Linked DNA regions of Homo sapiens. The protein of the gene in region 1 purifies or fractionates together with the protein of each later gene. This does not show direct contact. Each region holds a gene or a part of one and is shown in the gene's direction. Other genes may lie near its edges. The genes, in order: SNX3, KIAA1191, PTER, SMC1A, GAB2, CTPS1 and ZC3H6.

Region 1 (4,178 bases):
TGTTAAGAAATAAAATGAACAGTAGCTAGGAAGAAAATTGTGGCTTCCACTTTATACTCAGCCTGATACTAAGCAACTTCTCTTAAAATTAGGGGGAAAATATGAATATTAGAGTGAGAGAATACTAAATCTTGCTGTTTAAATTTCAAAAGTTTTAGTCATCTTAAAGTAAGTTAACAATATTTAAGCCTGATTTACATTTAATTTCAGAATTCAGCATTCTTTCTGGGTAAATCTAGAGCATTTAAAGTGGCATCCAAGATAAAACCTTTAAGGGATTTTTGCTGTAATTTGCCTCAGTAGTCTGACTCTTGTCCATACATTTCAAAGCAGATAAACCTAGGAATCAACTAGAGCCATCTGTTCTTAATTCTACACCTTAATGCTACATGCAGCTCATCTGTGGCTTCTACTTCTGTAGTAACTTCTCTGTTCTATTTTTTCTGTTCATAGCTATCATTTTTCTATTCAAACATATTTATTAACTCCTGATGCTCACAGGTAGTCACCTTAGCCCCATATTTAGAGTGCAATTTAAACTTTTCAGTTTTATTTCCCATCATTCCCTATGCTTTAGAATATTCAAGAATTATATACTAAATATACACTGTACTTGTTTCTTCTCTGCATTTAGCTCACACTATTTTCACCATTTTCAGCTGTCTTATAGTATGGCTAGCTCTGTGTTAAAAGAGTCCTGGCTGAGGCCATTGCACTCGCGCCATTTTACCCTAGCATGGGCGACAAGAGCGAAACTCTGTCTCAAAAACAAACAAAACGAAAAAGAGTCCTGACTGGCCGTACGCAGTGGCTCACACCTCATATTCCAGCACTTTGGGAGGCTGAGGTGGAAGGATCCCTTGAGCCCAGGAGTTCAAGACCAGCCTGAGCAACTTAGGGAGACCCTGTCTCTAAAGGAAGGAAGGGGAGGGAGGGAGGGGGAGAGGGAGGGGAAGCAGAGAGACTGAGGAAAGGAAAGAAAAGGAGGGGAAAGAATGAATGAATCCGGGCCAAATCAATTGTCAATTCTTCCGTGCTTTTCATATTATACAAATGGTATTATGCTATATAATATACTGTTCTGAAACTTTTTTTTTTTTTTTTTTTTTGAGGTGGAGTCTCGCTCTGTCGCCCAGGCTGGAGTGCAGTGGCATGATCTCACCTCACTGCAACCTCCGCCTCCCGGGTTCAAGCGATTATCCTGCCATAGCCTCCGGAGTAGCAGGAATTACAGGCTCGTGCCACCTCACCCGGCTAATGTTTGTATTTTTAGTAGAGATGGGGTTTCACTGTATTGGCCAGGCTGGTCTTGAACTCCTGACCTCAAGTGATCCACCCGCCTCAGCCTCCCAAAGTGCTGGGATTATAGGCATAAGCCACCGCACCCAGCCTGAAACTTTTTACATGTCATACATTCTAGACAGCTTTTCTGATTAACCTATGGCTGAGTTATATTTTGTAAAAAGCTGTGTAATATAAGCTTGTAATGTAAGATTTATTGTTTCTGGTCTTTTTTGGGGTTTTTTTTTGTGTCTATTACAATGCTAAAATATTTTTGTATGTGTGGAAATATTTGTAGGATTAATTCCCATTGAAATTGTTCATTCAAAAGTTATGTGTATTTAATAGAGTAATGGATAATGTATTCACCAAAATGCCCCCCTTTTTTTTGAGACCGTCTCCCTCTGTCACCCAGGCTGAAATACAGTGAGTGATGTGATCACAGCTCATGCAGCCTCAGCCTCGAAGGCTGAAGCCATCCTGACACCTTATCTTCCCACTACAGGCATGTGCCACCATACCCAGCTAATTTTTTTTTTTTTAAACAGAGTTTCGCTCTTGTTGCCCAGGCTGGAGTGCAGTGGCGCAATCTTGGTTCACTGCAGTCTCCGCTTCCCGGGTTCAAGCAGTTCTGCCTCAGCATCCCGAGTAGCTGGGATTACAGGTACCCGCCACCATGCCTGGCTAATTTTTGTGTTTTTAGTAGAGACAGGGTTTCACCATGTTGTCCAGGCTGGTCGCGAACTCCTGACCTCAGATGATCCACCCGCCTTGGCCTCCCAAAGTGCTGGGATTACAGGCATGAGCCACCACGCCCAGCCTGCCCAGCTAATTTTTTATTTTTTGTAGAGATGGGGGTCTCACCATGTTGCCCAGCCTGGTCTCAAACTCCTGTGATCCTCCCACCTCAGCCTTCCAAAGTACAGGGATTACAGGCTTGAGCCATCATGCCCAGCCAGTTTGTAGTATTTTTAACCATGGAAATTCAACTTTTTATATGCTTATTTTCTAACCTTGATTGGTGTATGTTTCATAAGGGCCAGGTCTGCATCTTATTCATCATTATAAATAATGATTCTCCCTTATCTAGCATGGTGCCCTTTTATAGATGATCAGTAAATAATAGTTTAGTCCTCCTGAAGCTGTAGGTAAAAAACCTCTCCGCCCTTCAATCATTTTATGAAAGTTAAATAAATTGAAAGTGACCAATCACAGGAGTTTCAGCAGTGATAGTTCAGTACCTTAAACAACAACAACAACAAAAAAAAAAAACCCACATTTTGCACTTAGTTATTTTAATCAGTTACATTGAATTACAAATCCTTGTAATGATGAGGAAGACGTTTAACAGGCTAAGTTAACCACTGCATATGTAATGGGCAAGTGATGTTTGAATTTCTTGATGTGACTTTAAACTCTAAAGCAGTCCTCATGCAAAAAGAGAAATCATAACCAGTTAAGAAAACTAAAGGAACTTTCTTAAGCTAATCATGGTCCTCTAAATTTAAGTATATAAACTATCAAACTATTAGCTAATCATAGAAGGGAAAGTACTTTTCCCCCTCACCCCTCCCCTTTCTGTTAGAGTGAATCAGATATAATCATGATTGTGTCAAAAGTTCAAAAGGGAAAATGGAAGGTAAAATGAGCTGAATTGGCACTCTTCTCTCAACATTGTACCTGTAAGCTTGATATGTTGTTTCAGAGATTAACTTTATAGACTTCCGTACCCAGAAGTATGAAAATTCTTAGGGGACTCTTTTCGCAAGCTTGATCTTAACGTATTTGAATAAAGAGAGCAGTTAATCCCCTTTGTAAAGTAATTTGAGAGGAGGGAATTCAGAATGTAAAATCTCACCTGCAGAAAACACTCAACTCTGTAAAGGCCTTTTTATCTTTAAGGCATTTACAAAGACTTAATATTTTAATGCGGAAGGGTGAACTTGGTTAAAAAGCCAATAGGTGAAATTAGAGAGAAATAATCCAGTGCTTTCTTTCTGGGAATTATTCTACTCTCCAGGGGACCTAATTTTATTCCCTGTGGGGAATGAGAATACCCTCTGTACAACAAGCCAGCATCTTTAAATATAAGCTTGACTTTTAGTATAATAAGAGTCTTGTTAGGTGCAATTTTTTCCTTAGTCATTTATACAATGAACAAATGTTGTGGTTACCTGGGAAAGAAAATTCAAGTGCTTTTAAATCTCTTGTGAGATTTGGTTTCATGCTTGAAACCTATACACTGTTATGCCCAATAGCATCTGTTGAAAATTCTGAGCTGTAAGGTATACAACATAGAGAAGTTAATACACTTAGGAAAAAATTGAGACCACTACAAAATGGATTTAAGGGCCTGAATTAAAAGCTTTTCTTGTGCTGAGTGACAGCTACTTACCAGTAGCATTAAGCTTAACAAATAAGTAGAACTTTCTTAGGAGTGAATATTACAAGATGATGTCCCTGTATACACAGTAGGAAGCCAGTCTTTCCTTCAGGTGGCACTTAACTTTTTTCTTCCAATTGTAAAACACTTTTTAGTTCTATGCAAATTCTGTGCTAATTAGTTCAAAGTCTGAATTAACGGACAGAATATAATCTAAGAGAATATATAGTGTTGAGTAGTATTTTTGGTAGGGTATGGCATTAGTTATTATGTTAAGTCATTTCTGTCTCCTACAAACTTTGTGATAATTTGCACATTTTAAAATCTTTTTGGCTGGGCACGGTGGCTCATGCCTGTAATCCCAGCACTTTGGGAGTCCAATACAGATGGATTGCGTGTACTCAGGAGTTCAAGACCAGCCTGAGCAACATGGTGAAACCCTGTCTCACCAAAAGTACAAAAATTAGCCAGATGTGATGGCATGCGCCTATAGTCTGAGCTACACAGGGGGTTG
Region 2 (4,178 bases), on another chromosome or scaffold:
TTTTTAAATCTCCCTCCTTTTTTTTTTCTTTTTAATTCAAAACTAGAATGGCCTTGTCTGCTCCTGAGACTCTTCATATTCCCCACAGAGCTAAATCCAAGCTCAGCATGATCCACAGTCCATGTGATCTAAGTCCTGCCTGCATCTCTCCAGCTCCCCTACCCAGTGCTTGAACTGTGCAAGTTACCTAAAATTCTTGCACTTAGCAGCGTATTTTCTGCCTGTCAGTTTTTGGCTCACACTGCCCTGATTGTTTAGGATGTTTGCCATCCACATCCTGTCCTCTCACCTTTTCTCCCACTCCATTTGCCTGAAAACTGGTATCCTTTAAGTCTTAGCTCAAAAGTCTCTTCTGTGACAGTTTTCCTGACATCTCCGTCCTCCTGATAAGGCCATCACCTCTCCCTCTGAGCTCCCCACGGTACCATGGTCCCCGTCGTCATCCCTGCATTGCTTTCTCGCCCTCCATTAGCTTCCTGAGGACAGGGGCCATGTCTAGGTTTGTACTCTTATCTGCAGGATCCAGCCGATGGCCTGGCATAGATTCCCAAAAACTGCTCATTTTGTGATTGGGGAAAAAAATTGGCCCTTTCTTGAACACATGCTGTACCTGTCCTCATGCTGTACCTCCAGCCTCAGCTGCCTTTGCCCATGGCCATCCTCTGTAAGAACTGCCTCCTTCCTAAGGCCCTTCCGAACATACCTCACAGTCCTTCGTGCAGTCTAGTTTCGTAGGTTCGCATTATTGGAGCCTCTGCTTCCCGACCTCAGGGACTCTCTCCCCTCTGACTCTCCAGCCACCAAGAATACAAGAAAGGCTAGACTGTTGCCTGAATAAAGTAGGCCCGCCAAGTTCACGTAAGGCTGTTTAACCTGTAGCTACAGTTTCTCTGAACTTTGAGCCACATGGTAGCTCAGGGCCTGACAGGCAGTACACAGTAAGGGTCCACTGAAATAGGCCTGGGTGTGAGTCCCAGGTGGTCTGCCCTAGCAAGACCTTGGGCACACAACTTTACCCTGAGCCCCAGTGTCTCTCTCTGAGAGTTGGGAATACCTTATGTCATAGAGGTGTTGTGGGGATTCAGTCAGGGGATGTAAAGGGTTGGCACATTGTGTATTAGCTGTGTAGCTGATATTATGACTGCAGGCTCCCTGCTTAACTTTCTCTTAGTAGAGCCATATTTGATAATTTCTAAGGAGTGTTTTTCCCCCCGCCTCCAACAGACTTTCAGGGCAGACAGCTCCTTTCTAAGAAAGTGCCCCTACAGCTCTGGGGGATATTCCCTCTATCAATTATCTACTGAAATATGACCCAGTCAGTTGTTCAGGGAGAGTATTCCATGTAACAAGTAGCAAAAGTGCAGGGAGAAAAGGCCTGCTGCAGCTTGCCTGTGATGTCAGAGCAATGGGCTTTAGGGTCCAGAGCAGGAGGTGAGCAGGGCTTCTGGTGGTGCTTGCCAGGCCACACACCCTGCTGATGGCTCCACAAGGCAAGGGATGAGCGGGCTTCCAGATTTCTTCTGGGCCTCAGCTGGAACAGCTGATGGCTTGGAACAGCTGCTCCAAAGGAGAGCTCCGCTTGACTCATTGCATGCGATCCTATTCATTTGCCCTAACTCTCCCCATGTTAGGAATCAACCGTCTTCCCAGTAAGGAAACAGGCTCAAGTTTTACTCAAGGTCACAGCTTAAAGGTATAAATTCTGTTTTGTAGTAAGGATACAACATTTTTCATTACTTTTTATCTGTCCCCCCTTTTCAACCATCTTACTTTCTTCTCAGTTCTTCCAGACAAGCACAGAATAAAGAATAAGTCTTGTTCTCTCCTCCCTGCTAGGCCTGAGCAAGGTATCAGGTGTTTCGATTGCAGAAGGTGGAGGCTGCCAGCTCTTGCAGGTTGAAAATGAGGAGCTAAGTAGATTTTTTTTGTTTGTTTCAAAAGACCATTACTTGAACCTTGGGAGCAGTGGTCCTCAAGGTGTGGTCTTGGGACCGGCAGCATCAGTAACACCTGGGAATTTATTAGAAAGAAATTCTTGAACTCCACCCCAGACTAACAGGGACCTACTGAATCAAACTCTGAGGTGGAGCCCGGCAGTCTGTTCTAATGGCTGGCACAGGGTCAGAACCACTTAGCCAGTGCTCTCATCAATTAAGATCTAGCATAGTGCCTGGGATGTGGTCAGTGCTTCGTAATAAGCATTTCTTCTGCATTCTTAGGGCATAGTACTATAGTATATCGGAAGATCATAGTCTGGGAAGGTAGTAGACGTCAGAGCTTCAAATTCTGGCTTTCCCACCTTTATAAATGTAAACTATTCACCTAATGTCTTTCTTTGTTGTCTCTATGGATAATACCTATCTAGCTGGGTGGAGATGACCAACTCCTCCCTTCAATGATTTCCTCACTTACCAGATTAATGTTATTTCAGTAACTTCCTCCCCAAAGGAGTAAGTTTAGGTGTGTGACTCCCCTGCCCTGCCTAAGTGCTTCTGTACTGTACCTCTCTTGAACAGGTGGAGGAAGGAGAGGCCAGTCTACCCTCCCCTGCCATGACCCTGTCATCAGCCATTGACAGTGTGGACAAGGTCCCAGTGGTGAAGGCTAAAGCTACCCATGTCATCATGAATTCTCTGATCACAAGTAAGCACTCTTCACCCTCAGAGTAGAGTGCCATAGGGGCAGGGAAGAGTTGAGGCTTCCTACAAGCTGATTGGAGATGATACTGCAACACGCTCGCCTTACCTTATCCTAAAAAATGTCAGTTTGGCTGCTGAATCATGTCAGTATTGAAGCTCCATTTATTAAGTGGAAGATTTGCCAAATGTTAAGCATCTTATCTGATTTAGGTGCATTCCTGCTGCTTTGTTGATATGATCTCATGTTCCCAGCTCTGTCACTGTGGCCTTGGGCAAGCTACTTAACTACAGAGACTGCCCCGCTCTAAAATGGGGAATTTCACTGGCAGGTTGAGGTGAGGATCAGAAGGCCCAGTGCTCAGTGGCGGCAGCTGCTGCTGTTACTGTTTCAAGCTCTGCTGGAGAAGGGGAAACATCCGGGCATTTCCCACTTACCCCAGTTTTTGTTTTTTTTTTTGTTTTTTTTTTTTTAAACAGCTCAAAGTTGGTCTACCAGGAAGAGGACCAGGTCCAAGTGTCTTTAGTCTTAAGAATGTATGATTGGTCATCCTAATGAAACCTGATATGAGAACTTGGATTTTTTTTTAACCTTATAACAAGCTAACTAAACTTCTTCATTCTGGAGGGCTGTACAGGTTGCTGTGGGAAGTTAACAATTAGATACATGGCTCTGTTTGTCAGCAGTTGTGCCCCTACCAGGGTAAGGTACATAGAGGTTCTCCTTGGTTGGCTCATTTTTGAAGTCAGAAGCCCTTGTTTATCTTCTCCAGGAGGGCATCAGTTTGTCCTGGGCAATTCCTAGTGAATTCACCAAGAACCAAAGGTCCAGACTCTTACTTTGGTTTCTCTTCTTTTTTTTTTTTGTTTTGAGACAGAGTCTCACTCTGTCACCCAGGCTGGAGTGCAATGCTGTGGTCTCAGCTCACCACAACCTTCGCCTCCCAGGTTCAAGCAATTCTCCCACCTCAGCCTCTGGAGTAGCTGGGACTACAGGCGCCCACCACCACGCCTGGCTAATTTCTGTATTTTTAGTAGAGATGGGGTTTCACTCTGTTGGGCAGGATGGTCTCAAACTCCTGACCTCGTGATCTGCCCGCCTAGGCCAACCAAAGTGCTGGGATTACAGGTGTGAGCCATCACGCACCACCTATACTTTGATTTTCTTATTCACATCTGTTGAATCAGCAACACTACTTTTATTTTACAAGCTTGAGAATGTGTTCTAGCAGTGTTACAAAACTTATTCATTGTTCTTTTAGCACAATGTAACTTTTTTTTTTTTTTTGAGATGGAGTCTTGCTCTGTCGCCCAGGCTGGAGTGCAGTGGCACGATCTCGACTCACTGCAAGCTCCGCCTCCCGGGTTCACGCCATTCTCCTGCCTCAGACTCCCGAGTAGCTGGGACTACAGGCGCCTGCCACCACACCCAGCTAATTTTTGTATTTTTAGTAGAGATGGGGTTTCACCTTGTTAGCCAGGATGGTCTGGATGTCCTGACCTCTTGATCCGCCCGCCTTGACCTCCCAAAGTGCTGGGATT
Region 3 (4,178 bases), on another chromosome or scaffold:
GATCATAGGAAGTGCCAGCCAGTTCTGCCTGAGAGCATTAGAGGAATCTCCCAGAAGGGATGACATTTCTTAAGTGATTTTTTTTTCAGAAAGACTCACAGCTTGTGAGCTTGAAACGTACCAACATTGCTCTTTCAAATATGCATCAATTGAATATGCAGTTTGGTACTTTTCTAGCAAAAGTGGTAGCATTTTATCAATTTAGCTCAGTTTCTGCCCCTCTGTGACTCTCTGGAACACGTCTGTAAGATGGTCAGCCAGAAGGAAAGAAACGGCAAATTAACCCATATGGAAGCTTGCATCTATTATTAATGGTACTGTGATTTCATCAACGGAAGGCATGAACTACACACTCCTTGCTCTCAGTAGCAAGGAATAAGACACTGAACAGTAAATTCCTATCCATCATCATTGGAAAATATTGCCCTGTATAGTGCCTGGCAGCTGTGTGGTGATTCTCTGAAGAGACACTGCCTGCTTTTCTCTTAGCCACCATTTGAATTGCCTAGCTGATAGAAGTTTGGCTTCCAGAAAGGCACTATCAAACAAAATCAATGGCCATGTTAGCCACAAGTCCTAAGTTCTGTCCAAAAGTCTAAATCCATCATTTATGCCTTATAAGCCAATATATCGCAAACACCTGAGTTCCAGATAATTGCAGTGGCTTGCTATAAATTGGCCTACAATTCTGTCACCCTCTGACCTCTGATGTTGTTTTCACCTTGTCTTACGTGTGTACTATACCCTTCACAAATTTTCCCCTTTGTTCCCCCAAATCATCTCCCCTCTCATCAGCCACTTTCTCTGAAAAGAAATAATCTAGGATATACGTGAATAGTTCCTAGAATTCGCAAAACAAAGCTACTATTTGTTGAATATGGTCTGCGTGCCAAATGCATCTACAGGTATTTTTACCTGTGGTATCTAATTTATTTTTACGACAGTCTATGAAATGTGCTTCGTTATTTTAATTTACAGATGACAAAAATGGAAGTCAAAGAAGGCTTTCAAGGGATATGGGGGAAATGATGACTTCAGAACACTATTTGAAGGAACAGTTTGAGAGCTTGGAAACACGTGATGCTCCTTTTCTTCAGTTCCCAGAGTCTGGGACTCGAGTCCTGATTTTGCTCTTGGCCATGCAGGAGTTTGTCCTCACTATTTTCAGTAGCTCTTGTTCCTTTATAAACCCTTCATTTAGGAAATGTACTTAAAATTTTTTTTTTTGAGACATAATCTCGCTCTGTTTCCCAGGCTGGAGTGCAGTGGCGCGATCTCGGCTCACTGCAACCTCCGCCTCCTGGGTTCAAGCAATTCTTCTGCCTCAGCCTCCCAAGTAGCTAGGATTACAGGCACGCTCCACCACACTTGGCAAATTTTTGTATTTTTAGTAGAGACGGGTTTTCACCATGTTGGCCAGGCTGGTCTCAAACTCCTGGCCTTATGTGATCTTCCCACCTCAGCCTCCCAAAAGTGCTGGGATTATAGGCATGAGCCACTGCACCTGGCCATTTAATTTTTAATTTAAACAAATTTTTTAAAAGGAAATGTACTTTTAAAGGAAAGTACTGGAATTGGAGTTCTTGGTATCACTGATAGACATTGGTGAACACTTAATTTGTGCTACAAATGAAAGCAAATCGAGGATAGAGAGGGCTTTGCTCTTTTTAGAGATAGCCGATTTCAGTTTCAATAAATCACAATCGCTTTCATTATGGCTAAGAATCTTTGCTTTTCAGTATTTTTGAAGTGTGTTTCTGTGTGCCCTAGACAATCAAGCATTCAACCTGAAGAGGTTCGTTTCTTGTTGTTATTTCATTATTCAACCGAGTGTGCTCCTCAGTTGTTTTGGGGAGGGGCATATTCTATGAAGTCGTGTGAGTCAGAGATCTTGTCTTTTGTTTCTTTATGGCTCTAATTTCTGACACATCATGGACCTTCAACAGAAATTTGTTTGCTTGGGTAGTGGAGGAACAGTAGAAAGATCAGTTGTGGCCACGAGTGATGGTTCACACCTGTAATCCAGGCACTTTGGGAGGCCGAGGCAGGCAGATCACCTGAGGTCAGGAGTTCAAGACCAGCCTGGCCAACATAGGGAAACCCCATCTCCTAAAAATGCAAAAATTAGCCAGGCTTGGTGACACATGCGTGTAGTCCCAGCTACTCAGGAGGCTGGGGCAGGAAAATCCCTTGAACCCAGGAGGCGGAGGCGGAAGTTGCAGTGAGCTGAGATCGTACCACTGCACTCTAACCTGGGCAACAGAGCAAGACTCTCCCTCAAAAAGAAAAAAAAGGAGGAAAGATCAGTTGCTTCAGGATATTTAATTTAGCTAAAAAGTGACAAATGAAACAGTACTGATACATGGTTAGTTTGGATGTAAGTTATTGATTCTGAATACTTTTTTTTAATTACAATTACTGTTGATTTATCCAAGAATGCATAGCTATGATTAAGAGATACAATTAAGTTAAAGAAAAGTGAACTGAATATCAAAGAATATTTCCAGTAGATAAGGTTAGGACTAACTCAGGCAGAGGACTCCCAGTAGAAGGGGTGGGAGGCAATTAACACCACGCACGTCACTTAGATCTGCAGTGGGGATAGATTCTGAAGTCGGCAGGATTGTGAGATCGTATCTCTAGTTTTATTGATTTGCCTTCTTACATGGGTATATGTTCACAGCCTCCCACCCCTTACGGACAAGAGTTTATGTGTGTGTTAAATATTCTGATTGTAGTTGTTTGTTTGTTTGTTTGTTTTTAGAAAAAAGAAATCCTCTTTTTAGAACATCTCTTGGTGGTACCATCAGAAATGTCTTCCTTAAGTGGAAAAGTCCAAACCGTTTTGGGCCTTGTAGAGCCAAGCAAACTGGGCCGTACCCTGACCCATGAACACCTGGCCATGACCTTTGACTGCTGTTACTGTCCACCTCCCCCGTGCCAGGAAGCTATTTCCAAAGAACCTATCGTGATGAAAAATTTATATTGGATTCAGAAAAACGCCTATTCCCATAAAGAAAACCTTCAATTAAATCAGGAGACAGAAGCCATAAAGGAAGAACTGTTGTATTTTAAAGCTAATGGTGGAGGGGCTTTGGTGGAAAACACAACCACTGGGATTAGCCGAGACACACAGACGTTGAAGAGGCTTGCAGAAGAGACTGGCGTCCATATCATATCTGGAGCCGGGTTTTATGTGGATGCAACTCACTCCTCAGAGACCAGGGCCATGTCAGTGGAGCAGGTAAAAAGCCTAAGTTCTTTGACAGTATTTGTTCATAAATTCAGAACAGCCAGAACCTTGGAAATGCCCTGGGTTCAGAGGTAGCTGGGCATGCTACGGAAATTTGCTAGCTAGCAAAGACATCTGCCAGTTGGGGCCCCAGTTAGTAACACTGTATTTCATAAAGAAAGTGCCAATTTTGCAAGCAAGCCTTGTGGTAAAGAAAAAAGAAAATAATAATAATAAGTGTCAAGGAAAGAGATCTTAGTGCACTGGTCATTGCAAAATCCAACGTGATAATAGTTAGATTTGTGTGTATCGTATCTGTCCTCAGTATTGGCACCACAGTCTATTTGTAAACCTCACTTTTCCATCTTAAGTTATGCTACCTCGATTTTTTTTCACCCTGGATTTTATAATAACCAGCAATGAAGATTCACTGTAGGGTGAAACTTGGCAGTCAAAGACTTGGCACATTTGTGAATATGTTTCAGTTTCCTTTCACAAAACAGGAGAGGTGGAAGAAAATTCATTCCCCTGTGTTTTGTCATAATATGGTCTTAAGAATGGGCAGAAGGAAGTAAATTGTTTAGGGACAAAAAGAATAAGGTGCAAAACCTTTTTTGCACGTGTATGTGTTCTCTTTCTAAACACACATGTATCTATTTATACATGTTTACACATATATGTATATATTCGTATGTATCTTCCATTGCCTGCATGACAGGCATAGGGTGTCAGCTCATTCTTTGCAAAAGATCACTTACTCTCTGGAGTATTTTGTATTTCAAAATTTTTTCTGCATTATTTTCCAACCAGGACTTTATTTTTTTAATGTATTTTTGTTGTTTAAAGACTATGCTGATGATGAGGATTATATATTCTTCCAACCACTTTTAGTGGTAACTATACATATGAACCCAAAAGTCTAATAGTAGTATAGTGTGCTGTGAAT
Region 4 (3,622 bases), on another chromosome or scaffold:
TTGTAAGAACCAGGCACATTTCTTGACTTGCAGTTTAGACAAATAGAATATTTAAGCACTCAGGCCCTGGGTAGACAGGTGCTCAGATGAGGGAGAACTCAAAAGGGGTGGTGGCCTTGCCAAGAAAGAGGAACCAATGTGAGGCCGAGCCAATGGAGTGGCTGAGAAGGCCTTCCTAGAAGAGGAAACTGAAGCTAGAAGTTTAAAGGATAGGAATTTGAGGGGCCAACTAAGTAAATACAGGATGTTCTTGGGAGTTGTTAATGAGCTTCCTGGCCAGGGTTGAGGCAGAGTTGGTAGCTTTGCCTTATGGAGTGGCTGGAATGCCAGGCTGAAGTCATACCTTTCAGGGAGTAGTCAGACTGCCCCTTTTTTTCAGGATCTGTGGGGCATTACGCCCATGTTCTTTTAAGTAATTCCCTGAGGTTGGCTCAGGGGCTCAAGCTCTCCTTTGGGTGAAAAGCCTGGGAACCCTCCCTTCTTCCATAGTTCTCACTGGTTTCCCCCACCCCTCTGGCAAAAGGGAGAAGGACTCAGAATTGAACCAGAAGCGGCCTCAGTACATCAAAGCCAAGGAGAACACCTCCCACAAAATCAAGAAGCTGGAAGCAGCCAAGAAGTCTCTGCAGAATGCTCAGAAGCACTACAAGAAGCGTAAAGGTGACATGGATGAGCTGGAGAAGGAGATGCTGTCAGTGGAGAAGGCTCGGCAGGAGTTTGAAGAACGGATGGAAGAAGAGAGTCAGAGTCAGGGCAGAGATTTGACGTTGGAGGAGAATCAGGTAAGCTCTGGAAGGGGTTGGCAGGGAGGAGATCCCTGGGCTGACATCTGCTGACTTGGTCATCCCTGTTCTCCTTCCCTGTCCCTAACACAGGTGAAGAAATACCACCGGTTGAAAGAAGAAGCCAGCAAGAGAGCAGCTACCCTGGCCCAGGAGCTGGAGAAATTCAATCGAGACCAGAAAGCTGACCAGGACCGTCTGGATCTGGAAGAACGGAAGAAAGTAGAGACAGAGGTGGGCTATAGTTATAAGATTAGGGATGATGGTCCACAGAAAAGGATATATATAGGTTGAGCATCCCAAATCCAAAATAATCCAAAATCTGAAACGTTTCCGGTCCTAAGCATTTTGGATTAGAGTTACCCAACCTGTAATGATAGTCTTTTTTTTTGTTTTTTTGTTTTTTTGAGACAGAGTTTCGCTCTTGCCCAGGCTGGAGTGCAGTGATGTGATCTCAGCTCACCACAACCTTTGCCTCCCGGGTTCAAGCAATTCTCCTGCCTCAGCCTCCTGAGTAGCTGGGACTACAGGCGTGCGCCACCATGTCCAACTAATTTTTGTATTTTTAGTAGAGACAGGGTTTCACTACGTTGGCCAGGCTGGTCTCGAGCTCCTGACCTTGTGATCCACCCACTTCGGCCTCCCAAAGTGCTGGGATTACAGGCTTGAGCCACTGCGCCTGGCCATGATAATCTTAATGATAATGACAATGATAATGACAGTAGCTCACATCTGTTGAGCACTTACTGTATGATAGGCAATGTTCTTTACATGTATCCACTCATTTAATTCTTCATTTATTATTATCTTTATGGAATGGCTACTATTACCCTATTTTATGAATGAGGAAATTACAACACAGAGTAATTTGCCTAAGGTCACAAGATTATTGTTATTTTTGAGACAGAGTCTTTCTCTGTCATGCAGGCTGAGGTGCAGTGGTGCGACCATGGCTCACTGCAGCTTCGACTTCCCAGGCTTAAGCAATCTTCCAACCAGAGCCTCCTGAGTATCCAGCATTACTTGTGCTTGCCACCATGCCTGGCTACTTTTTTTTTTTTTTTTTTTGAGACAAAGCCTCACTCTGTTGCCCAGGCTGGAGTGCAGTGGCATGATCTCAGCTCACTGCAACCTCTGCCTGTCGGGTTCAAGTGATTCTTTTTATTTTTTTATTTTTATTTTTATTGTTTTTTGAGACGCAGTTTCTCTCTTGTTGCCCAGGCTGGAGTGCAATGGTGCCATCTCGGCTCACTACAACCTCTGTCTCCCAAGTTCAAGCAATTCTCCTGCCTCAGCCTCCCCAAGTAGCTGAGATTACAGGCACCAGCCACCATTCCCGGCTAATTTTTGTATTTTTAGTGGAGACGGGGTTTCACCTTGTTGGTCAGGCTGGTCTCGAACTCCTGACCTCAGGTGATCCACCCGCCTTGGCCTCCTAAAGTGCTGGGATTACAGGTGTGAGCCAACGCACCCAGCCCGGTTCCAGTGATTCTTGTGTCTCAGCCACCCGTGTAGGTGGGATGACAGGTGGGTGCCACCACACCTGGCTAAATTTTTTGTAGTTTTAGTAGAGATGGGATTTCACCATGTTGACCAGGCTGGTCTTGAACTTCCGAACTCAAGTGATCCGCCCGCCTCGGCCTCCTAATTTTTTAATTTTTATAGAGTCAGGGTTTCTGCTTGTTGCCCAGGCTGGTCTTAAACTCCTGCCTGCCTCTGCGATCAGCCTGCCTTGGCCTCCCAAAGTGTTGGGATTACAGGCGCGAGCCACCGTGCCCGGCCACTCACATAACTATTAAGTATCAGAACCAGACCCTGGGCATTGTAGCTCTAAAGCCCACACTCTTACCAAATATACTTTACTTACTGCCTCCCTGATATCAATATTGTAATAACAGCAATGATAGAAAGTTGTCATAGTGTCCCAGGAGTGTACAGTGTTCAGGCATTCTGCTAAGCACTTTTAAATATTTAAAAGAATGTTGGCCAGGCGTGGTGGATCACTTGAGGCCAGGAGTTTGAGATCAGCCTGAGCAACACAGTGAGACCCTGTCTCAAATTTTAAAAAATAATAAAAATTTTTTAAAAATAATGTGATAGTCATTAATATTAATAACAACCCTATATTAAGCACTTAATGTGTATTCTATGCAGTGGAGATTACCCACATTTTGCAGATGAGGAAACAGGTACAGAAAGGCCTGTGAAGCTTTATCTTGATTTGAGCCTCCATGGTTGGTGAAGAAGATGCCTTGGCTGGGTAGAACACCTATGAGAGGTTCTGGAGCTCTGGGAGGCCCCCATCATTAGTTAGTAGATCAAACCGAACACCATCTATGTCTGCTTTTTAGTAGGCCTCCTATATTAGTGACAGATTGTCCTGGACTGTTCGGCTCTTGGATGAGTGGGCACATAAAGGGTGTGATCTAGAGCCCCCATGGTCTTGGCGTAAACTCGTGCAGCCCCTGATGATGGAATGTTTGTTTCCCAGGCCAAGATCAAGCAAAAGCTGCGGGAAATTGAAGAGAATCAGAAGCGGATTGAGAAACTGGAGGAATACATCACCACTAGCAAGTATGTAGCTCTGCATCTGTCCCCCTTACTTCCAGGCCTGTTCTTGTGACCCTACCTACATGCCCCTCTTCATGCAGGACCCCCAGAGCTCTCTGAGCCAGGAGTATTTTCTCACCAGCAGGAGTAACTCCTGTGTGCCCTCACTTTGTAGGCAGTCCCTAGAAGAGCAGAAGAAGCTAGAGGGGGAGCTGACAGAGGAGGTGGAGATGGCCAAGCGGCGTATTGATGAAATCAATAAGGAGCTGAACCAGGTGATGGAGCAGCTA
Region 5 (4,178 bases), on another chromosome or scaffold:
AGCTACTCAGGAGGCTGAGACATGAGAATCGCGTGAGCCCGGGAGGCTGAGGTTGCAGTGAGCCGAGATCGTACCACTGCACTCCAGCCTGGGTGACAAAACGAGACTCCATTTCAAAGAAAAACAAAAAAACTTACTTAATTCGGAAAGACGGGAAGGTGTAGAGGGGAAAAACATCTTAGAAGAAGCAAAGGCAAATGTTTGAGCAATTAGTTTTCAGGGATTTTTTTCATCAGCCTTTTCTAGTTAATTAAGTATAAGTATAAGAGACCTATCTGCTATTTACTGAGTGCCCTGGAGAAATTGCAAAAAGTGTCTCTGGAAAATGCTGACTATTGCCTCTGGGGCATCCTGATATGGCTGCAGTGGGAGGCCGGCAGAAGTAACAACCCTCCCATCGTGCCTCAGTGTATTTGTGTGTGTATGCGCGTGCATGCAAATGCATACACACGTACATGTATATAATTATTAAACAGAATTTTCTTGAGGAAAAACATTTTATTAATATGACCTACACTGCATTGTAGTTTTCTATCAATTTCACTGGATTAAAAGATTGAGGGAATAAGATTGGCAGACTACCCCCTAGTGGCTAACTTGAAGAAAGTTGTGCACAAATTGTAAAGAACTACTGCATTAAGGTAACAGTAATTGTTTATTTCCATTATATTTATTAAATATACTTATTAAATCTATGTCCCAGGCACTGGATCAGGTGCTTGGAATAAAAATCCAGTAAACAGAAAAAAAAATTAATCCAGTCTTTCAGTCTTAGCAATGGCTTTGCCTTCTCCTTCAAAGGAAAATTGAAATGATGAGGGAGTAGTTGTCTGTACGTACGATGAATGGCCACATTTTCAAATTTACTTGTATCTGCATAGTTCCTTTCTTTCTTCCTTTTTTTTTTTTTTTTTTTTGAGACAGAGTTTCACTTTTGTTGCCTAGGCTGGAGTGCAATGCACGATCTGGGCTCACTGCAACCTTTGCCTCCTGGGTTCAAGCGATTCTCCTGCCTCAGCCTCCCAAGTAGCTGGGATTACAGGCATGCATCACCACACCTGGCTAATTTTGTATTTTTAGTAGAGATGAGGCTTGACCACGTTGGTGAGGCTGGTCTTGAACTCCTGACCTCAGGTGATCCACCCGCCTCGGCCTCCCACAGTGCTGGGATTACAGACAGACATGAGCCACCGCGCCCAGCCTGCATGGTTCCTTTCTTGTTTCCTTTTCTTAGAGTAGATGAAGTGCCACTTCTATCTGAGCTAATCCTGCTACTTATACTTTGAATCATATCTTCTCCTCCCTACTCAAATAATTCTTATCCTGTAACACATCTTCAACTTCTTTCCCTCTCTGTACTACCTACTTTTTTTCAGGGATAAACTTGGTGGTGGTTTATGCAGTCTTCCTTTCTCCCACCTTCTTCTCAGTCGGCTCCAGTGGAAACCTACTTTGTTATTCACCAAAGCTATTCTGACAAAGGCACCAGCGATACCCAGGTCACTAAACTCAGAGGATGATTTTTTACTCCTCATTTTAATTAATCTCTTCACTGCTTGGTCATAGTTGACCACTCTTTTTTAAAACACCTTCCTCTTATCTTGGCTGACACTATAAATGCCTGTTATTTCTCCTTTTCTGGCTACTCTATATTTCCTTTGCTAGACTGACCCTTTTATCCAGTCCTTAAAGGTTGAAGCTCCTTTATAGTCATAGTGGCTGTGTGGTTTCTCCCCTTTGGCAACCTTGTCCATTCTACTGGCTTCAGTTATCATTTGCATGGTGGTCATCAAGTTAAATTTCCATCTCAGAGTTGTGTTCTGAACTTCAGACTTACATATCCAACTGTTAACTGGGCATCTCTATTTGAATGTTTCCCAGTCAACACAAACTCACCACTTCCAAAACTAAACTCTTCTTTGTTCATCTCTTCACTCCACATCTGCTCAGTAAACAGTGCCACTAAGCACCTACTTGCTCAGATGAGAAACTTGGGCATCATCTTTGACTCCCCGTCACCCACTATCCCACATCTAATCTGTCACCAAAACCCATTAGTGGTATCATCTAAATATCTTGTTATACGCTTCTTCATCCCCACTGCCATGACTTTTAGGATTATTTTAGTAGCCATCTGTTGAGCACTTACTTTGTACCAGGCACTATGCTTAGACCATTGATCTTTTAATGTAGTAATTTAGCCCTATAATAAGGGAAGCAACTTACCCAAAGTCATCTAGCTTTGTCCTAAAGCCTGGGCTTTTTAAAAAAATTAAACATTTCATTTTGAGGTAATTCTACATGCACATCTAGTTGTAAGAAATAGTAAACAAAGATTTATGTAGCCATTATCCAGTTTTCCTTAATGGTAACATCTTGCAAAATTATAGTACAGTATCACAACAGTATATTGACAATGATACAGTCAAGATACAGAGCATTTCCATCATGATAGGATTTTTTATGTTGCCCTTTTATAATCGTATTCACTACCATCCCACCCCTACCACATCCTTAATCTGTGACAACTACTAATCTGTTCTCTGATATTTCATGTGTGTTATTTAAATGGATTCATGCAGTACTTAAGATTTTGAACTTTTTTTTATTCAGCATAATTCTCTGGAGATTCATCCTCATTTCATGCATCAATAGTTATTGTTTTTTATTGCTAAGTAGTATTTCATGGTATGGATGTACCACACAGTCTGTTTATTTAACCATTCACCCGTTAGTTCTCATTTACATTTCCCTTATGGCTAATGATGTTGAACATCTTTTCATATGATTATTTGCCATCTGTATATCCTCTTTGGTCAAATGTCTTCAAGAATTTGAGTATTTTATATATAGGTTTTTTTTTTTTGAGATGGAGTTTTGCTCTTGTTACCCAGGCTGGAGTGCAATGGCATGATCTCGGCTCCCCAGGTTCAAGTGATTCTCTTTGTTGTTGTTGTTGTTGTTGTTGTTGTTTTTAGACAGATTCTCACTCTGTCACCCAGGCTGGAGTGCGGTGGCACAGTCTTGGCTCACTGCAACCTCTGCCTCCCAGGTTCAAGCGATTCTCCTGCCTCAGCCTCCTGAGTAGCTGGGACTACAGGTGTGCGCCACCATGCCCAGCTCATTTTTGTATTTTTAGTAGAGACAGGGTTTCACCATGTTGGCCAGGATGGTCTCAATCTCTTGACCTCGTGATCCGCCCACCTTGGCCTCCCAAAGTGCTGGGATTACAGGCGTGAGCCACTGCGCCGGCTTTCCTGGTTTTTTTTTTTCTACACATTTTACAGGTTTATGTTTTTCCTTTAAGTCCGTGATCCACTGTGAGTTAATTTTCATGTAAGATGTGAGACTTAGATTGAGGTTCTTTTGTTGTTGTCATTGTTGTTGACAAAGCCATCCTACTTCCATTGAATTGCTTTTCCGTCTTTGTCAAAAATCAGTTGGACGTATTTGTGTGGGTCTGTTTCTGTTGTCTCTGTTTTGGTCCATTTTTCCATGTGTCTGTCCCTCTGCAAATACCATAGAATCTTGCCAACTCTAGCTATATTGTAAGTCTTGAAATCTGGTAGCCTGATTCCTCTACTTTATTCTTATTTTTCAAAGTGTTTTAGCTATTCTATTATCTTTACCTTTCAATACAAATTTTAGAATAATCTTGTTTATGCAAAAAAAAGAAAGTCTTGCTGAGATTTTAATAGGAAGTGCATTAATCCTGTGTACCAATTTGGGAAGAAATTACAGCTTTACTATATTAAATCTTCCAGTCCATGAATTTATTTTACATTTATTTATATATGTCTTTCTTCCTTCGTTTATTTTCTTCTCCTTCCACCATCCCCCCCCCCAACCACCCCCACCAGAATCTTGCTGTGTCACACAGGCTGGCGACAGTGGCACAATCATGGCTCACTGCAGCCTCAAATTCCTGGGCTCAGGTGATCCTACTGTCTCAGCCTCCCAAGTAATTGGGACGACAGCTGCGTACTGCTGTGCCTGGCTAATTTTTTTTTTTATTATTTGTAGAGACAGGGTCTCCCTGCGTTGCCCAGGCTGGTCTCACACTCCGGAGCTTAAGCAGTCCTCCCACCTTGGCTTCCCAGAGTGCTGCGATTATAGGTGTGAACCACCATGTCTAGCCTTCTGGAAGAGATGGTGTAGAACTGGTATAATTCTTTAAA
Region 6 (4,178 bases), on another chromosome or scaffold:
AGTGCTGGGATTACAGGTGTGAGGGCGCCCGGCCTTAAAAATATTCACTATTAAAAATGTAACAAGTATTTCCACATTTAAGTTTAAGTTTCAGATTTTTTGCTTTTTTTTTGAGATGGAGTTTTCACTTTTTCATCCAGGCTGGAGTGAAGTGGAGCAATCTCAGCTCAGTGGAACCTCCACCTGCTGGGTTCAAGTGATTCTCCTGCCTCAGCCTCCCGAATAGCTGGGATTATAGGCACCTGCCACGATGCCGAGCTAATTTTTGTATTTTTAGTAGAAATGGTGTTTTGCCATGCGGGCCAAGTTGGTCTGGAACTCCTGACCTCAGGTGAGCCACCCGTCTTGGCCTCCCAAAGTGCTAGGATTACAGGTGTGAGCTACCACGCCTGGCCTTGCCTTTTTTTTTTAAGAGACAAGGTCTTGCTGTGTCACCCTGACTAGAGTGCAGTGGTGCTGTCACAGCTCACTGCAGCCTGGGCTTAAACAGCCCTCCTGCCTCAGCCTCCTGAGTAGCTAGTACCTTAGGCGGACGCTACCATGTTCAGCTGTTTTATTTTTTGTAGAGATGAGGTCTTGCTATGGTTGCCCAGGCTGGTCTTGAACTCTTTGGGCTCAGGCAGTCTTCTTGCTTCAGTCTTCCAAAATGTTGAGATTACAGGCGTGAGCCGGCAATGCCCAGCCTTACTTACTCTTTTAATTGGAATGTTTATCTTACTGAGTTGACTTGATATAGTCTGAATACAAGTCTTTCATCAGGTATGTGATTTTCACATATTTTCTCCCTATCTGTGCCTTGTCTTTTCATTTTCTTCTCTCTTTTTTTTTTTTTTTTTTTTTTGAGATGGAGTCTTGATCTGTTGCTCAGACTGTAGTGCAGTGGCATGATCTTGGCTCACTGCCATCTCTGTCTCCCGTGTTCAAGCGATTCTCCTGCCTCAGCCTCCTGAGTAGCTGGGGCTACAGGCATGCACCACCACACCTGGCTAATTTTTGTATTTTTAGTAGAGACGGGGTTTTGCCAAGTTGGCCAGGCTGGTTGCGAACTCCTGACCTCAGGTGATCTGCCTGCCTCGGCCTCCCAAAGTGCTGGGATTACAGGTGTGAGCCACCGCACCTGGCCTTCATTTTCTTAATAGTGTCTTTTAGAGCACAGACACTTTTAAATTTCGATGAAGTCCAATCTGTTTTTTTCTTTTATGGATTGTGCTTTCACTGTCGTGTCTAAGAACTCCTTGCTCTTAACCAAGGTCATGAAGATTTTCTTGTAAAAGTTAGTTTTAGGTCTTACATGATCCATTCTAGGTTAACTTTTGTGTGTAGTGTGAGGTAAGGGTTGAAATTTTTACATGTGGATATCTACTTGCCTCAGCCCCATTTGTTGAAAAGACTATCCTTGGATACTATTCTGTACTTTTTAAAAATAAAGGTACATTATAGATTTACTAATCTTCATAAAGTTGTTTAGACTTATTTATAGCTATTCATAATTTTTATTACTACCGTGTATTTTTAAAAATTATATTTTCTGATTAGATAATACCCCATGTGTAGGAGACCCTGCTGACCTCTGTCCATTCATCTACAGCCTAGCAACCTTACTAAAATTCTATTAGTACTGATTGTTTACCTGTAAATTCTTTTGGTTTTTATGGATAAGCAGTGATATTGTATGCATTATTCAGTGGCAACCGCTTCTTGTTTTCTGGTTCATTTTTTTTTCTTATCTAATGATAATGGCTAATATCTTCAGTACATCATTGAATAGAAGTACTGAAAGTGGCCATTCTGGCCTTGTTCTGGACTTTAAATAGTAAACATTAATATTAAACCATGTGATGTTTACTGTGGGTTTTTTATATTGCCAAATTTTCCCTAATCTTAATTTACCAATAATTTTTATTATGAATTTGGTTTTGAATTTTTATCAAGTCTACATCTACTGAGGGAATTGTTTTCCTCCTTAATCTGTTTTCTATTTATGTGGTGAATTCCACTGTTAAATTTCCTAACACAGTAGTTCTCAAACTTGACTGCACACTGGAATCACTTGGGGAGCTTTAAAAATACTGATGCCTGCCTCCTACCCCACAAGATCCTAATTCAAGTGGTCTGGGGTGCAGCATGGGCTTTTGACCTTTTATAAGCTCTGAATGATTCCAATATGCAGCTGAGTTTGAGAACCACTGTTCCTAGTTAAGCCATTCATAGGTTCGTGGACATGATTTTTTTAAAGCTACATTTGTGATTTGGATCATGAATTATTATTATTATTATTTTTAAGACAGGTTCTGGCTCTGTTGCCCAGGCTGGAGTACAGTGATGCGATCTTGGCTCACTGCAACCTCCAACTCCCAGGCTCAAGTGATCCTCCCACCTCAGCCTCCCGAGTAGCTGGGACCATGGGCACATGCCACCACACCCAGCTAATTTTTTGGGTGTTTTTTTTTTTTTTTGAGACAGAGTCTCACTCTGTCACCCAGACTGGAGTGCAGTGGCACAATCTCAGCTCACTACAGCTTCAAGCTCCCAGGCTCAAGTGATTCTCCCACCTCAGCTACCCCCCAGTTAGCTGAGACTACATGCACATGCCCACCATGCCTGGCTAAATTTTGTATTTTTTTGTAGAGACAGTGTTTTACCATATTGCCCAGTCTGGTCTTGAACTCCTGAGCTCGAGCAATCCTCCTGCCATGGCCTCCCAAAGTACTAGGATTATAAGCATAAGCCACCTTGCCCAGCCATGAATTTTTTTTAAAGGACTTTTGCATCCATGTTCATAATAGATTGGCCACTAATTTTCTATTCTATTCTTGAGTCTGTTTTAGTAGTTTATCTAGAAAATTGTCCTTTTTTCTGTTTTCAAATACATAATATTTTTACAAGGTCACGTAGCTAGTAGGAGGCTGTAAGCCTGGTGAGTTTTTGCTTTTATTTAATAACTTGCTTTTTTCTAAACAGGTGATCTGTGTCCACGATGTCTCATCCATCTACCGAGTCCCCTTGTTGTTAGAGGAGCAAGGGGTTGTAGATTATTTTCTTCGAAGACTTGACCTTCCTATTGAGAGGCAGCCAAGAAAAATGCTGATGAAATGGAAAGAGATGGCTGACAGGTTTGCCTGCAATGAGGAGCTGGGAGTGCTAGCCTCCTTTACTCTTTTGTAGGGCTGGTGAAGCCGACTCTAGCCCTAGCACTTTTGTACTTTTGCACTTCTGCCATCCACTCATTAGAAGAGCCTTTGTAGTAAGAGATGTTCAGAAAGGATCTTAGCTGTCACGTAGCTGTGGCACAGATGAGGAGATCCTGATAGGGCCAGGCCAGGTGCCGGGCCTCCAGACAATGAGTTCGGGTTATGTCTTAACACGCTTGTCTCTTACCAACTAGATCAGTGCAGATGGGCGTCCTGGTGGCAGCGGGTGAGTGTGCATATCCAAAGCCCACACGAATGGCTGACAGTGGCTGGAGCACTCCTGGGTACCACTCCAGAGTTCTGAGCTGTGTTTGGGAATGTGTCTCACCCCACACCAGAAAGGGATCACATTAGGACGGGGATGTGTTGCTGCCTACTCCACTACATCCTTTTAAGGCTCGGTGATGCTGTCACATTCCTTCAGAAATCTTCACTTCGTGTCTTAGAGCAATGGGCAGGCCTTATCTTAGTTGCAAGATCAATATGATGGCCTAGAAGCATTTGGAGAGGGCATACTCATTCCGTTGCTCTGTGAGAATCATTTTTCATTTCAACATTTTCCTTTCAGTCTTTGTCTGCTTACATATAGCTATCAGAATGGCAGTTTTATCATCCTTTTTCATAAAACATTATAAGCATTTTGCTCTGTTATTATATTTTACAATGAAAACTTTTAATGAGTGTGGACTTTTCTATTTTGTGAATGTCCCATAATTTGTTTGACACTTGCCTTCACCCCATTAATTCTTGTGAATTGTCTATGTCTGTTATTTTTTTTGGTCTTTGGTATGAAAAAAATTTTTTGTAGGCAAATTTGTGTGAGACGTTGAAACTCTTTGTAAGTTTCAAAACAAAAACAAAAAAAAAATTTTTCTTTACAAAGCCTGCCATGTTGATCTGAAAATTACTTCCTCTTTACTGGTCTGTACACAGAACTCAGATAATAGCTATTCCCGTTATATTCTTCCCAGGTGTGTTTTTGTTGTT
Region 7 (4,178 bases), on another chromosome or scaffold:
AATTAAGTGGAGAAAAATATATGAAACTTGGTATATGGAGCTAGGCTTTGTCTCAAGGATTTTATTTTATTTATTTTATTTTTTTGAGACGGAGTCTCGCTCTGTCGCCCAGGCTGGAGTGCAGTGGCACTGTCTCAGCTCACTGCAAGCTCCACTTCCCGCCTTCACACCATTCTCCTGCCTCAGCCTCCTGAGTAGCTGGGATTACAGGCACCCGCCACCACACCTGGCTAATTTTTTGTATTTTTAGTAGAGACCACGTTTCATCATGTTGGACAGGCTGGTCTTGAACTCCTGACCTCAAGTGATCCACCAGCCTTGGCCTCCCAAAGTTTTGGGATTACAGGGGTGAGCCACTGTGCCCAGCCAAGGATATTCTTTTTATAACATTTTCAAAAATTAAGGCATATTGTGTATGCAGGAAAAAAAATGAAGCCTATGATTTATATTTACAATTGCTTTGATTTTATACAAATTAAAATATTACTGTTTATGAGAATGAGATTCTAAATGTAAATGGAATTCACAGAATGCATAATTTTTTTCTCGTTTAAAGAAATAGAGTCTCGCTATATGCCTAGGCTGGTCTTGAACTCCTGGGCTCCAGCCATCCTCCCATTTCAGCCTCCCAGAGTGTTGGGATTACAGGCGTGAGCCACCACGCCTGGCCTTGTACATGTTATATAGTGAACATTTTGCACAAGATTGTTTGCCAAATGAATAATTTAAAAAAAATCCATTTAGTGTACTTTCCTTTAAATATTTTCACACCTGGAGTTAAAACATTGTATTTTATAAGATGTTATTAATATAAAAATACTTCTAATTCTACTTGTGGCTATGTAGAATGTAGTAGAGGACTTTTGCATAAGCCCAGAGCCTAGTTTCTAAAGGTCTTTAGGGATTTAGGGAAATCAGAGGGAGGTATAATTCTGGTCTCTCGTCGTTCAGTTCTTTTTCATTCAGTTCTCTCAGGCACGACTCCAGCCGCTCAGTTTTATATTTCAACTGGATGTTGACCCAATTAAAACAATTCACAACTCCTGAAGACGAAATACTATGAGTCCCTGCTTTGGACACATCTGTAGTAGAGTAGGAAAAGATAAATATAACCCAAGTAATTGTTACAGAATTTTCTGAAATATACTAATGGTAAAAGGTTTTGTAGGGCTTGTACTGGGGAAAAAGATAATTTTTTAGCATGAACCTTTTAAGAGCTTGTGAGTCTCAAAGAGTCTTTAACTGATAGGTGATATGGATAATACTCCCCTTTGGGAGGAGGTTTATAATACATAAACAACCTCCCCACCCTTCCCTCGCAGCTTTCTGTCCTGTACTACAAGAACAACAAAACTCCAACTAGTCAGAATTGCAAGTGGTTTATGGCCCCCCATATAGATTGAAAACTTGCTAAGAGACTGCACTGGAGAACCTGAAAGGATGAGGATGGAAAAGATGATTATACTTTTCATTTGCAACAGGGCTTTCATTTGATTCTCACATTAATCCCATGTGGTAGTTAATTAAGGTAGCATTACAAGGTTCAGTGAATTGTCTGAGATCTCATAAATACAACCTAGATAAGAACCCAGGTATTATTATTTTCAGTCTTGCAATATTATTTTCCTACTTGCAATATTATCTTCACTCTTCATTAAGTTTGCACAGCAAAGTAATGGAATAAGTTCTGGGCTTTAATCCTTGAGTAGTTTGGAATTGTAATGTGCTACATTTGAGAGAGAGCCCTTCATTTTGAATAAAACCTTGGTACTGATCCTGATCTTCTAACTTGGGTTAATGCTCTTCCCCTTTTCATTATTTTTTTCATTTGTGAAATGAAGTAGTTGCACTAGATCATTTTCAATTTTCCTTCCCACTTAAATCAATTTTAATTAAAAAAATTGCAGATGCCTTTTCTCAGATTAGAGTACACTTTTTGCTCCACACAATATCTGGTTTGTAAATTAGTATGTTCCGTGGAGTAAATAACTTTCCTGACTAGCCATTAACTTACTTCTGATTCCTGAATCCACTAATTTAACTATTGTTGAAATTACTAAAGGAAATTTTTCTTTAGCAAATGTAAAACCTCGTATCAGGTCTCAGGTTTGATGTTGTAAAGCACTCTGACTCTCAGGAAGACTCTTTTTTTCCCCCAACCTCTCATAAACAAATATTTCATTCATTATAAAATTTCATTCATTACATTTTCATTCCTCAGACTTAACAGTGTTTCGTCTCTGCTAAGTATAGTGTTAAGCACTGACAAAAGAACTCTGGACACAACATCATGAACTTGCTCTCTGGGATCTTATAATCTAGTTGCAGAAACAGATTGGTAAATACATAGTATAGCACAAGTACTATAATGGAGGCCTGAACTGAGTGCTGTGGGGGTACACAGATGAAGGCTTCTGGGAGACATCATGGCATAACTAGACCTGGAGGATGAATAAAACTTTGGCCAAGTAAATACAGAGATACACGAAAAGCATGGATAAATGGCACAAGTAGGTTCAGGGATGATAAAAGTGTTAGTATGTGGAGAGTGTACAACTATTTTGGGGAATGGGGAAACGGATTAAATTTGGGGCCAGACCCTGAAGGATGTGGGGATCCCATCAAAGTCTTTTAAGCAGGAGAATGATCAGATGCATTTTTTGGTATACTACCTGGGGGATAGGAGGAAATGGACTACAGAAGGGGAGATCAGTAGAAGGAAGACAAGTTAGGAAGCTTTTCAGTCATTTTCATTAAACATGAAGCTTAATATGTATTGTTCTAGGATCAGGAATACAGCAATAAAGAAAAAACTTGGTGTAATGAAACATATTTTCTTGGGAGAGACAGAAAATAAACATGAAAAACAGATGTGTTCAATGGTGATAAAGCAGAAAGGGAGATGGGGAGTCAAGTGGATGTGGGGAGGGTGTTTAGGGAAGCACTTATGAAAGAGTAACATTTGAGCAAAGAGCCCTGATACAAGACAACAATTCAGACCCAAGACATTTGAGGAAAGAGCATCCATATAAAGGGAGTGGGAGGTAGAGAAAGCCTGGACCAGGAATGAGCCTGGTATGATTGAGGAAAACACAAGGGATTTCACTCTTGAGTGACCTGGGAGCTAATGGGGGATTAAACAGAGGAGGGACAGGATCCTCTATGGTATATGGTAAGTGAGTAGTATGGTAAATGAGGTAAATGAATAGTAAAAGGAACTGCTGTGGTAATTTAGGTAACAGATGATGATGGTTTAGGTGAAAATGGTTGGATTGTGGATATGGTTTGATTGGTTTTAGAACCAATAGGATTTACTGGTGGCTGGATGTGGACAATGAGAGAATAGAATGAACCAAAGCTATTGTAAACGTCTAGAAATCAGATGAGGACTTGACCAAAGGCATTGGCAATGAGAAAGTAGGCACAATTCATGAGGTATTTCTTAGCATTGATAGAGTTGGATATAAATATCTGGAATTTTTAGCTGATTGAAATGTTAGTTGAAATGAATGATACCACTCAAGGTATGTGTGTCAAGAGGTATGGAGAAGAGCACAGAAGTTTTTGGAAACCAAGGGAGGAGAAAAGAAGGGATAGTCACAGAGCAGTAAAGAAAAATAAAGGTTAAAAATAGGTCACAGGATGTACATTATCCTAAGTTAAAATATTTTAAGGTTTGAATGAAAGGGTGCTGCAGGGTTTGCAAACTGGTGGGCTTCAGGCCTAAAATCTGCCTATACTGTTGTTTTTGCCTGACAGAATATCTTAAAATATCTGTATTTGAAAGCATTTAAGGCTTGACTTGTGCTCTACACTCCACAGTCTTATCATTCATAGTTTCTTGGCAAACTCACCACTCAAGGTGTGCCTCACTTATTTAGGAGATCTGCCTCACTAGGGTAGACATTTTAGGTTTATGACTCTTAAGTTTTCACCTGGACAGATTGGCTACCAAAAAGAACCTCACAGGTGGGTGACCTTGAATTCACCAGGTCATGCCATCAGTTCAGAGCGGCCGGAGAACTCTGTTCTCTTGTGCATTGATGCCCCCGGAGTTGTGAAACACAGTGGCCCTGCTTTAGTTTTTTTAGATTTAGAAACTGATCAGTGTCAGAGCGATCAGACACAGGAATGTTAATTCATGTTCAAAAATAATAACCAGGCTAGCATTTGTTTAG

What was found.
Region 2: the proteins of SNX3 (region 1) and KIAA1191 purify together in Homo sapiens (co-immunoprecipitation; one large-scale study listed by IntAct). This does not show direct contact.
Region 3: the proteins of SNX3 (region 1) and PTER purify together in Homo sapiens (affinity purification with mass spectrometry; one large-scale study listed by BioGRID and IntAct). This does not show direct contact.
Region 4: the proteins of SNX3 (region 1) and SMC1A purify together in Homo sapiens (affinity purification with mass spectrometry; one large-scale study listed by BioGRID and IntAct). This does not show direct contact.
Region 5: the proteins of SNX3 (region 1) and GAB2 purify together in Homo sapiens (co-immunoprecipitation; one large-scale study listed by IntAct). This does not show direct contact.
Region 6: the proteins of SNX3 (region 1) and CTPS1 purify together in Homo sapiens (affinity purification with mass spectrometry; one large-scale study listed by BioGRID and IntAct). This does not show direct contact.
Region 7: the proteins of SNX3 (region 1) and ZC3H6 fractionate together in Homo sapiens (co-fractionation; one large-scale study listed by BioGRID). This does not show direct contact.

Annotation. Positions count from the first base shown.
Region 1 is NC_000006.12:108,226,191-108,230,368, reverse strand, and holds part of SNX3 (sorting nexin-3), read left to right. Parts: intron 1-4,178. UniProt on the Homo sapiens protein: Phosphoinositide-binding protein required for multivesicular body formation. Specifically binds phosphatidylinositol 3-phosphate (PtdIns(P3)).
Region 2 is NC_000005.10:176,351,087-176,355,264, reverse strand, and holds part of KIAA1191 (putative monooxygenase p33MONOX), read left to right. Parts: exon of another isoform or gene 1-1,693; intron 1,694-1,836; exon of another isoform or gene 1,837-2,516; coding exon 2,517-2,643; intron 2,644-4,178. UniProt on the Homo sapiens protein: Potential NADPH-dependent oxidoreductase. May be involved in the regulation of neuronal survival, differentiation and axonal outgrowth.
Region 3 is NC_000010.11:16,481,573-16,485,750, forward strand, and holds part of PTER (N-acetyltaurine hydrolase), read left to right. Parts: intron 1-1,565; exon of another isoform or gene 1,566-2,362; coding exon of another isoform or gene 2,363-2,377; intron 2,378-2,764; coding exon of another isoform or gene 2,765-2,812; coding exon 2,813-3,244; intron 3,245-4,178. UniProt on the Homo sapiens protein: N-acetyltaurine hydrolase that regulates feeding by catalyzing the hydrolysis of N-acetyltaurine into taurine and acetate. N-acetyltaurine has anorexigenic and anti-obesity effects that are dependent on GFRAL receptor and GDF15.
Region 4 is NC_000023.11:53,409,155-53,412,776, reverse strand, and holds part of SMC1A (structural maintenance of chromosomes protein 1A), read left to right. Parts: intron 1-523; coding exon 524-782; intron 783-875; coding exon 876-1,016; intron 1,017-3,273; coding exon 3,274-3,356; intron 3,357-3,507; coding exon 3,508-3,622. UniProt on the Homo sapiens protein: Involved in chromosome cohesion during cell cycle and in DNA repair. Central component of cohesin complex. The cohesin complex is required for the cohesion of sister chromatids after DNA replication.
Region 5 is NC_000011.10:78,410,827-78,415,004, reverse strand, and holds part of GAB2 (GRB2-associated-binding protein 2), read left to right. Parts: intron 1-4,178. UniProt on the Homo sapiens protein: Adapter protein which acts downstream of several membrane receptors including cytokine, antigen, hormone, cell matrix and growth factor receptors to regulate multiple signaling pathways.
Region 6 is NC_000001.11:40,992,956-40,997,133, forward strand, and holds part of CTPS1 (CTP synthase 1), read left to right. Parts: intron 1-2,961; coding exon 2,962-3,113; intron 3,114-4,178. UniProt on the Homo sapiens protein: This enzyme is involved in the de novo synthesis of CTP, a precursor of DNA, RNA and phospholipids. Catalyzes the ATP-dependent amination of UTP to CTP with either L-glutamine or ammonia as a source of nitrogen.
Region 7 is NC_000002.12:112,278,251-112,282,428, forward strand, and holds part of ZC3H6 (zinc finger CCCH domain-containing protein 6), read left to right. Parts: intron 1-4,178.